3 linked regions of the Homo sapiens genome follow. The protein of the gene in region 1 purifies or fractionates together with the protein of each later gene. This does not show direct contact. Each region holds a gene or a part of one and is shown in the gene's direction. Other genes may lie near its edges.

What was found.
Region 2: the proteins of ZNF597 (region 1) and NSMCE4A purify together in Homo sapiens (affinity purification with mass spectrometry; 4 studies listed by BioGRID and IntAct, with this or other methods). This does not show direct contact.
Region 3: the proteins of ZNF597 (region 1) and TASOR2 purify together in Homo sapiens (affinity purification with mass spectrometry; 4 studies listed by BioGRID and IntAct, with this or other methods). This does not show direct contact.

What each region holds. Positions count from the first base shown.
Region 1 is NC_000016.10:3,436,871-3,440,522, reverse strand, and holds part of ZNF597 (zinc finger protein 597), read left to right. Parts: intron 1-2,984; coding exon 2,985-3,652. UniProt on the Homo sapiens protein: May be involved in transcriptional regulation.
Region 2 is NC_000010.11:121,968,585-121,972,236, reverse strand, and holds part of NSMCE4A (non-structural maintenance of chromosomes element 4 homolog A), read left to right. Parts: intron 1-1,167; coding exon 1,168-1,298; intron 1,299-3,652. UniProt on the Homo sapiens protein: Component of the SMC5-SMC6 complex, a complex involved in DNA double-strand breaks by homologous recombination. The complex may promote sister chromatid homologous recombination by recruiting the SMC1-SMC3 cohesin complex to double-strand breaks.
Region 3 is NC_000010.11:5,736,805-5,740,456, forward strand, and holds part of TASOR2 (protein TASOR 2), read left to right. Parts: intron 1-2,813; coding exon 2,814-3,652.

The sequences.
Region 1 (3,652 bases):
AGCTGGGACTACAGCCGCCTGCCACCATGCCCAGCTAATTTTTTGTATTTTTAGTAGAGACAGGGTTTCACCGTGTTAGCCAGGATGGTCTCAATCTCCTGACCTTGTGATCACCCGCCTCGGCCTCCCAAAGTGCTGGGATTACAGGCATGAGCCACTGAGCCCGGCCGAGATGATCTCTTAAAGACAAAAATTCAGTCTAGTACAGTGCCTGTGGTTTAGTACAAGAGATGGCAGTATTTGGTAATCTTTCACAAACATTTGTTGCAGTTTACAATTTTACTTGGGAAATCCCATTAGTATCGATCACTATCATTTGCTAAAGACTGGAGATTGATTTACTCTTAAGGGGTGCTATGCCTTACTCACCTAAGGGGAACCATACACAGATGGACTCCTGTGCCTGACTAGATTTTATTTCTGACTAGGATTGAGTATCTAAACTATCTATTCTAAGTAGTTATTCTAAATAGTTTGGAATAGTTGAGATACTCAATCCTAGTCAGAAAAAAATAACTAGAGTAACTAGTTATTCTGAATAACTCATATTTTGTTTCTTCCACTTCTCTCTTCATCATGTTCATGTTGTCTTCTGTCTGCGTAAATGTATGGAGTATATTTATAATGGTTATTTAAACTTTTTTTTCTTGCTAGTTTTAACATTGATGTCATTTCTGGGTCTGTTTCTATTGATTGATTTGTCTTCTAGTTATGGGTTATATTTTCTATATTTTCTTTACTTCCTGGGTAAATTTTGGTCGGATGTTAGATTAAGAATTTTATGTTGTTGGACCCGGGATTTCGTTGTATTTTTAAAAATATTTTGGACTTTGTTGTGGGAGGCAGTTAAGTTACTTGGAGTCAGTTTGACTGTTTCAAGGTGTGCTTTTTTTTTTTGCTTTGTTAGGATAGGTTCAGATCAACCTTTCTGCTAGGACTTATTTGAGTTACTGCTAAGGCAGTTTTTTTCTGTGGACGTTGCTGCTCAATGTCTTATGTCTTTCCACTTTGGCTGGAGGCAACATGAACTGGTTATTGCTCTGTTATTCCTTTTAGGTGGTTCTTTCCACGGCATTGGGTAGTTTCTTCATGCACTTGTAGATTACTACTCAGCCAAAGTTGTGGGGTTATTTTTTTTTTGATACAGTATCTTGATCTGTCACCCAGGCTGGAGTGCAGTGGCACAATCACGGCTCACTGCAGCCCTGACCTCCCAGGCTCAAGCAGTCCTCCCACCTCAGCCTCCCAAGTAGCTGGGACTACAGGCATGCACTACCATGCTTGTCTTTTTTTGTTGTTTTTTTTTTGTAGGGATGGGGCTTTGCCATGTTGCCCAGGCTGGTCTCGAGCTCCGTGGCTCAAGCAATTCTCCCACCTCAGCCTCCCAATGTGCTGGGATTACAGGTTTGAGCCACTGTACCTAGCCTCAGGAAAGTCTTAAGGGGACCCCATGTAGATGACCTGAGCTCTCTTTCTGAACAGCTGCCTCTTTGCTGTTTTGCTTTCAAATTCTAGCTGCCTTGGCATCCCTGATCTCTGAACTCAGTCCCCTCAAATCAGCAAAACCACTTGGTACTGTTTGGATTCCCATGAACTATACTGCAGCCCTTTCTAGTCAGTGAGTTGGGAAAACTGTAGAACTTTGTTTCTCTGGAAAGAAAAGTTCCTTTTGTATTGATATATTTGCTTTATAACTGAAGAATACTTGGAAAATATTACACAGGAATGTTAGTTTTGTCAGCCATTCTTGTAAGTAGATTGGCTGTTATTTTCATGCAGTACACACAGCCTTCTACCTTGATCTTTCCTCAGTGAGGAGTAAAGAGATTTTGGAGAGTTCTCCTGGTGATAATAAAACTATTTCTGATAACCCGTGTGTTTCTTTGTTATGGAAGAAAAATGCTCACTTGATTGCTTTTTTTTCTTTTTTCTTTTTTAATTATTATTATTATTTTTTTTTGAGACAGAGTCTTGCTCTGTCGCCCAGGCTGGAGTGCAGTGGCGCGATCTCGGCTCACTGCAAGCTCCGCCTCCTGGGTTCACGCCATTCTCCTGCCTCAGCCTCCCGAGTAGCTGGGACGACAGGCGCAGGCCACCACGCCCAGCTAATTTTCTGTATTTTTTTTTAGTAGAGATGGGGTTTCACCGTGTTAGCCAGGATGGTCTTGATCTCCTGATCTCGTGATCCACCCGCCTCGGCCTCCCAAAGTGCTGGGATCACAGGTGTGAGCCACCGTGCCCAGCCTCTTTTTAAAAATTATTTTCTTTCCCACTCATTCTTGCTGTCATCTTTTTTTTTTTTTTTTAAGAAACAAGTTCTGGCTCTGTCACCTAGGCTGGAGTGCAATGGCACATCTCAAACTCCTGAGCTCAAGTGATCCTCCTGTCTCAGCCTCCTGAGTATCTAGGACTATAGGCATGTGCCACCATGCCTGGCTAATTTTTAAAAATTATTTTTTGTACAGATGGGGTCTCACTGTGTTGCCCAGACTGGTCTCAAACTCCTAGCCTCAAGTGATGCTCCCACCTCAGCTTCCCAAAGTGCTGAGATTACAGACGTGAGACACTGCCCAACCCCTCTCTTTGTTGATAAATATGAATCCTAATCTTTTTTCCAATTGTTAATTGTTCTGCTGTCACTTGAGATAGCTTCAAAAATGAAAGGCTCTTGAGGCCTAAATAGATTAGATGGAAAAGTTCACCTCTAGATAGCTGCTACTGAGATTGTCCTTAGTACCTATCCCACTGGACTCTGACTTAGTTATAGCTATTCTCTCCTTACCTTTGGATATTCACCCAAAACTGGATCTTCTGGGAGGCCAGGAGAGTCTGCTTGGTCCTGATTTTGTGTGGTTAGTGTCTGGGTTATAGAATAACCCTTCTAAGGTTTCCTGGTCCTGTTTGTAACTACCTTAGCTTACTTTTTCCCCAGTATCCCTTGAAGATATTGTCTATGTTTTGCTTTCTTTTGTTTTTATCAACAGGAGAGGAAGGCAAGCCTGAGATTAATCAGCAGTTAAGCCTAGAGTCTATGGAACTTGACGAGCTTGCCTTAGAAAAGTACCCCATTGCTGCACCCCTTGTCCCTTACCCAGAAAAATCCTCTGAGGATGGAGTTGGAAACCCTGAAGCGAAAATATTAAGTGGAACTCCCACTTACAAGAGAAGGGTCATCAGCCTTTTAGTTACCATTGAAAACCACACCCCATTAGTAGAACTCTCTGAATATTTAGGAACCAACACACTTTCTGAAATTCTTGATTCTCCCTGGGAAGGAGCCAAAAATGTGTACAAATGTCCTGAGTGTGACCAAAACTTCAGCGATCATTCATACCTAGTTTTGCATCAGAAAATTCATTCAGGAGAGAAAAAACATAAATGTGGTGACTGTGGAAAGATCTTCAATCATAGAGCCAACCTGAGGACACACAGGAGAATCCATACTGGTGAGAAACCTTATAAGTGTGCCAAGTGCAGTGCCAGCTTTCGCCAGCACTCTCATCTATCCCGACACATGAATAGCCACGTAAAGGAGAAGCCCTATACATGTAGCATATGTGGTAGAGGTTTTATGTGGCTCCCAGGATTGGCACAGCATCAGAAAAGCCACAGTGCTGAAAACACCTACGAATCTACTAACTGTGATAAACAT
Region 2 (3,652 bases), on another chromosome or scaffold:
TATTCTCCAGCTTCAGCCACCCGAGTAGCTGGGATTACAGGTGTGCACCACCATGCCCAGCTAATTTTTGATTCTTTAGTAGAGATGGGGTTTCACCACGTTGCCCAGGCTGGTCTCAAACTTTGGAGCTCAAAGTGATCCGCCTGCCTCGGCTTCCCAAAGTGTAGGGATTACAGGCATGAGCTGCTGTGCCCAGCCTGTTTCTGCATTAATTTAAATCTTTTTTTTCCATAGCTTTTCTTAAATCCCATGTCCTCTGTCAAGCCTTTTTTGAGTATCCGTCCTCGGGTCACTACCTGCTACCTGTAGACTGTTCATTTGGGTGGCTTTGCTGGGGTTGCCTGTGAAGCCATACAGAGGCATGAGCCTCCTAGTGCCAGCCTAGCACATGCCATGATTTTGGTTAGCAACTTTAGCAACTTACCTATTGCTTAGCAGCTTACCTATTGCTGTTCACAAACCACCATGCCAAGCACAGGGCCCTACATGTAGTGGGAATTTGATTTTCCTTACGTCAGCACACATGATCATCGTGATTAGGATGGAGGGAAAAGTGAGTATTAGACATGACGGGTTTTGCTCAACTGGAGTTATTTAAGAGATTGTGATTCAGCTAACAGTAGGAGAACTAGACAGAAAGCTGGCTTTTAGGAAGACTGGTCAGCTTTCATTAGAGATTTTGGTGAGTTGGGCACAGGAGAAAGTTTTTTTTTGTTTTTGTTTTTGTTTTGAGACAGCCTCTTGCTCTGACACCCAGGCTGGAGTGCAGTGGCGCGATCTTGGCTTACTGCAAGCTCTGCCTCCCGGGTTCACGCCATTCTGCCTCAGCCTCCCAAGTAGCTGGGACTACAGGCGCCCGCCACCACGCCCTGCTAATTTTTTGTATTTTTAGTAGAGCTGGGGTTTCACCGTGTTAGCCAGGATGGTCTCGATCTCCTGACCTCGTGATCCGCCCGCCTTGGCCTCCCAAAGTGCTGGGATTACAGGCTTGAGCCACCGCACCTGGCCAGGAGCACGTTTTAGAAGGAGATGTGTCAGTTGCCTATTGAGATTTTTTTTTTTTTTTAGTCCAGTGGGAAATCCTGGTAAGTAGTTGGAAATGTAGGGAAAAAGTCTATGGATAATGTGTATTTTGTAATGTGAATATTTTCTTTCTTTTTTGAATAGTGTCCCGAGCAAGAGAAGCAGTCCTGGATGCCCACTTTCTTGTTTTGGCTTCAGATTTGGGCAAAGAGAAAGCAAAGCAGCTGCGCTCAGACCTGAGCTCCTTTGACATGTTAAGATATGTTGAAACTCTAGTAAGTTCAAAGCTACAGACTCTGAATAAAAAATGTTCTGTTATATATTATAATTATTTACTGTGCTCATATCCATATGCAGATGATTTCACTTCATTCTTCTTTTTTGGTCTCAGATTCCTCTGTAGAGATCTTACCAATTTAAACAGACGAAAGTAGAACCATGTGGTGGAATCTTGGGTGGGGGCTTGGAGTAAAAATCTCGTAGCATTCTGTCTTAAGATGCTGGGTGCTATGGTCATTTGCCAATGGCCATTTTTCCTCTGTTCACTGGTGTTCTAGATCATTCTCAGTGACCTCAGACCTTTGTCCTGGGCTGGACAAAAGCCCACTCTGCGATGGCAGAGCTCAGCTGGAATTGAGTTAGGCCTGGCGAGAGGGCATGTTTTGGTCTGTCTTTGAGAATATTTCAAAACCATGTGAATATGATTGGGTTTTGCTTTTTTTTTTTTTTTTTTTTTTCCTTTGAGACAGAGTCTCGCTCTGTCGCCCAGGCTGGAGTGCAGTGGCGTGATCTCGGCTCACTGCAAGCTCTGCCTCCTGGGTTCACGCCATTCTCCTGTCTCAGCCTCCCAAGTAGCTGGGACTACAGGCGCCTGCCACCACGCCCGGCTAATTTTTTGTATTTTTAGTAGAGACGGGGTTTCATCATGTTAGCCAGGATGGTCTGGATCTCCTGATCTCGTGATCTGCCCGCCTTGGCTTCCCAAAGTGCTGGGATTACAGCCGTGAGCCACCTAGCCCAGCCAGGTTTTGCTTTTTTGGTTTTATGTTTTATTCACCTTTCTTTGTCTCTTGACAAGTTTGAATAGTGGTTACCTGCAATTCTAAAACTGTTCCTTGATGAATTTACCAAAAAAGAAAAAGCACACAGAGACTGACCTTGTATCTCACTTTGTTGTCTTTTTAAAAAATTCTATTCTGGCTGGGGGCAGTGGCTCACGCCTGTAATCCCAGCACTTTGGGAGGCTGAGGCGGGTGGATCACCTGAGGTCAGAAGTTTCAGACCAGCCTGGCCACCATGGTGAAAGCCCGTCTCTACTAAAAATAGAAAAATTAGCTGGGTGTGGTGGCAGGCGCCTGTAATCCCAGCTACTCGGGAGGCTAAGGCAGGATAATCCCTTGAACCCAGGAGGCAGAAGTTGCAGTGAGCCGAGATCGCGCCACTGCACTCCAGCCTGGGCTACAGAGTGAGACTGCACCTCAAAATCAATCAATCAATCAGTCAATCTGTCAATCTGAGCCAACCTCTGTCCTAGCACAGATAGCTGCACCTCAGTATGAATATTGCATTTCTAACTGGATGTTTATGTTAAATGGTTATTAAAATAATTTAGTACTATGAGATCTGATCAGATAATTTTTTTGTAAAGGCATGAGGCACCAGATTATTTCCAGTTTGTTTTTCAAACCTTTTCCTTTTTTTTTTTTTTTTTTAACTTTTTTTTATTGTGAAACATAATGCACTTAGGAAAGTGCACTGTAATATAGAGGTCAATAAAGTAACCATGTATTGGGTATTTCTTTAAAAATTACTTTATCAGGTTAAGCTCTATTTTTTTATTTTTTGAGACAGAGTCTTGCTCTTGTTGCCCAGGCTGGAGTGTTGCCCATGCTGGAGTGTTGCCCAGGCTGGAGTGCAGTGGCACGATCTCAGCTCACCGCAACCTCCACCTCCTGGGTTCAAGCGATTCTCCTGCCTCAGCCTCCCAAGAAGCTGGCATTACAGGTGCCTGTCCCCACGCCTGGCTAATTTTTAGTAGAGGTGGGGTTTCGCCATGTTGGCCAGGCTGGCCTCGAACTCCTGACTTCGTGATCCACCCGCCTGGACTTCCCAAAGTGCTGGGATTACAGGCATGAGCCACCGTGCCCGGCCAAGCTCTGTACTTTAAATAACATATCAAAATAAATTCTGGAAGTCTTAAAGCATTAAATATAAAACCTTAAATTAATAGTTGTCCAGTCTCTGGGTGGAGAAGACTTTCGTATGTATAGCATCAAATATAGACACTATAAGGAAAGATTGGTGGATTTCTCTGTCAGTTAAACAGACCAAAACTGCCACGTCTGCCTACAAGGGTGCAGTGGTAGTTCGGGCGGCAAGGGAATGGAGAAGAGCTGGCCATAGCGCTCTGACCAGGCTCTTGTAGCCTTTCTTTTCTTTAAAGTCTGATTGCCTTTAATAGGGTTAAGCTCCCTGAGGGTTTTGTGATTATTGTTTATATATGATATTGCCATCGTAATTGGATAACTTCTAGGCATTTTACAGTATAATGTAATAAAAATGTACTTTCATAAAAGTAAATTCAATATAACACATTTTCTGTAAGACAGTTTGAGATGAGAGAATTATT
Region 3 (3,652 bases), on another chromosome or scaffold:
TTTTTTTTGTTTTGTTTAACGGAGAGACTTCATTCTCTCCTATCTTTCTATGAGTTTTCTGTCTGGTTTTCCTGATTCTACTTTCTCCCTCATCTATTACTAGATGTTACTATCTCACAGAGAGTGAGAATTCAGAGAAAGAAATTGGATTGTTGTTTTGTTTTGTTTTGTTTTGAGATAGAATCTCACTCTGTCACCAGGCTGGAGTGCAGTAGCACGATCTCGGCTCACTGCAACCTCTGCCTCCCAGGTTCAAGCAGTTTTCCTGCCTCAGTCTCCCGAGTAGCTAGGACTACAGGTGCATGCCACCACGCCTGGCTAATTTTTGTATTTTTAGTAGAGATGGGGTTTAACCATTTTGGCCAGGATAGTCTCAACTTCTTGACCTCTTGACCTCATGCTCTGCCTGCCTCGGCCTCCCAAAGTGCTGGGATTACAGGTGTGAGCCACCACGCCCAGCCAGGTTTGTTTTTTTTAGTTTTTTTGTTTTTTTTTTCAACTTAAGCATACCCTGAGATTCTTTAAGTTTTTTCAGATTGTTTTATGACTGAAGATTTTTTTAAAAGCTCATCATGTCATTCAAAAACCCATATGCTGCAGTTTTGGCTTCCATACCAGATTTGAGCTCTTCTGCTTGTCCCTCTCGGGAGTTTATGGTGTGGCTGTACCTCCCCTCTCTGCGTTGTGCCTCTGCTGTTGCCACCGTGCTCCTTCCCCTGCGGCCCTCTGTGCCTCCCCCAGGCAACCTCTGCCCTTCAGGGGCCTGCAGCTAGATTTATCCCCACAGGGAGGCGTTTTCTCATGTTGTGACTGTAACTAATCTCTCACTTCTTTGGGATATTTGAGAACATTCTATAATTTAATTCATACTGTTTTCAATTCATCTGACATGTCTTGGTCCAATCTTTCCAATTTGTAAACATGAGAATAGGTAACATCTTGTGTTCCTAGCAGTGTCATTTGCATTCTTTGTACTGAATTGGCTTCAGATGTTTATTGACAAATTGATTAATGCGAGGAGGTATATAATTGCATACTGGCAGAAAAGTGAGCCCAGAAAATTTAAAGTTTCAAAATGTGTGTTCAAATACAGGCTGATTTGTATTGCAAATGTCTGTAGGTATTGTGCAGCCACATTCCAAGTTAACATTTTTGAATGACTACATTTAAATCTCTGAATTTTTTTCTTAAGCACCTATGTTAATCATTTTACTTCTTATACTTAAAATATCAACGTTTAAGAAGGCAGATGAAACATAGCCACATTGACCTCAGTTTGCAAATTACTGATTTAAATTAGAATCAAATGATAATTTTGAAGTCAGACAGTCCTTTTGTTAATGAAACATGATTTTCTGTCCTTTTTATTCACTGAACTTTTTTTTAATGTAGTTCCTTTGGCATTGTCTTATGTATGTCTTAAATAGAAATTATGGGTGGTGTTTTTTTAATTGGGAACCTGTAACACGTTAATAACTGGGTGATTTATGTGAGACTATAATATGTTAAACTACCATTTTTCTTTATTTTAATACAGTATCTTTTATATTAGGCCTTACTGGTAAGTAATATTTTGTGTAAGGGATAAGTAGATGGAGGCCATAATATTAACAAAGAATGAAATTAGCATCAGATCACAAAATTAATTTTATGTTTCCAGTATACCTGTGGGACTAACAAGACAATTATCTGCTTTGGGTCCTTTTCATCCACCTGTCCCCTTTGAGTTTGCTGTTTTAAATAAAAACTGGGCAGTCGTTGATCAGTTTAACCCTTTCCCCATGTATGTGCATGCCCTTGTCGTTCTAATTGATGACATCATAGGCTGGAGCTGTCTTCTCTTTAAATGTGTTACTCATTGGCCTTGGCTGGCAGGTTGTTAATTCATTTTGGACCTGCTACTATGATAAAGAGGAACATAGTTGGCTTTTCTGGTCATCTGTCTACCTGCAGCAGGGAATCATTGCCTAGCAGAGTTGTGAAGTTTATCCTTCATAATAACAGCATTTAGGAAGGAATAATGAATACGTTGAAAATACCAAGGGAAACCACTGGCAAATGTAAATGTTCTGATTAAGGGCATATGGATAGATTTGATTATCTGTAAAAGGGAACATTGTCAGTAGATTTGCTCTTTCTTGGATAATGTAAAAGGTCAATGTTTTTGGTAATGAAAGTAAAATTTTAAAAGGTAATGGAATTAATTGATGATTCTGAATACTCTTAGGACTTTTCTAATTTTTTATTTCTATCACATCATGTAATTAAAGATCAATATAGTTAAAATCATTTGAACTTAGGTAGTTTCTCTAATAAATCGCTTGTTCAGGGAAATGGTTCCTGAGAAAGTATGTTAGCAAACTCATACACACTTGAAACTTCTACATTCCTGTCCTTATTAGATTGTAAGCTCCCAAGGGCAGGACTCTCATCTTTTTTGGGTTTTTTTGTTTGTACATTTTTTGAGCTGAGCTGTATGTCTTCTGTGTAGATCAGTTCATATGTTTTTGAAGGATAATTTCTTTCTAAATTAATGTACACATTCCTTAAGACTTGTCCCTCTGGTTTAACACATTATAATCTGAGGGTTGAAAGAGACCTTAATCCAATAGAAAATTTTAATATGCAATATGTATAACATAAGTTTTATCTGAGGGTTGGAAGAGACCTTAATCTAATAGAAAATTTTAATATGCAATATATGTTACATAAGTTTTTCTCAGACATGTTGAATTAACCATCATAGTAATATGGCAGAGAGTTAATTCTATGACAAGCAAACATCTCTCTTTTTTTTTTCTTTTATACTGAAGTCAAAGGAGAAACTGCTTCAAAGCTTCAATCAGAAATTTCAAGAGGTTGTCAAGAAGATGGGATTAGCATAAATAGTGTTCAACCAGAAAATACCACAGCGGCTCACAATGATCTTCCTGAAAACTCCATCGTCAACTATGACTCCCAGGCCCTAAATATGTTAGCCGATCTAGCATTAAGCTCTGCTACTTCTTCCACACCAGTATCTGAGGCTAGAAATCTTCACTGTTCCTCTGAATTGCCACAAAATGATGTTTTGCTCTCTAAAGAAAATTCTTTGCGAGGTACATCTGACCATGAATATCATAGAGGAGTTAAAACTCAAAAAGGTGAATTACTACCTAACCCATCTTCTGATAGGAAGAGTAATTCTGGATCAGACTTAACAGTTAGCCAAGATGAAGAAAGCTTGGTTCCTTGTAGTCAGGCCCCTGCTAAAGCCCAGTCAGCACTTACTGAGGAAATGCTAGAATCTTCAGATGCAAGCCAAAGCTCTTCTGTTTCTGTGGAACATTCATATGCCCTGCTCCTTACAGAACATTCAAAGAAACATCTACAGGAGAGAGAGATACTAAGCCCTCTGTTTCCCAGGAATGGGACAAAAAGCCCTGAAGCAGCAACCCCAGTGGGGAAAGTCATGCCATTTCGGCATCAGCCCGGCCTTTTGCTTCAGCAAAAGCCTCCTGACGACCCCGTGGTGAAGCCCAAGGATCGACCACCGTCTGCCCGTGTGAAAAAATCTTCTTGCTCTCGTATAGTGCTTAGCTGTGATGACTCCGTTAAGATCACTTTCAAATGTGAAACAGAATATGCATTCAGTTTAGACAGCAAATATACC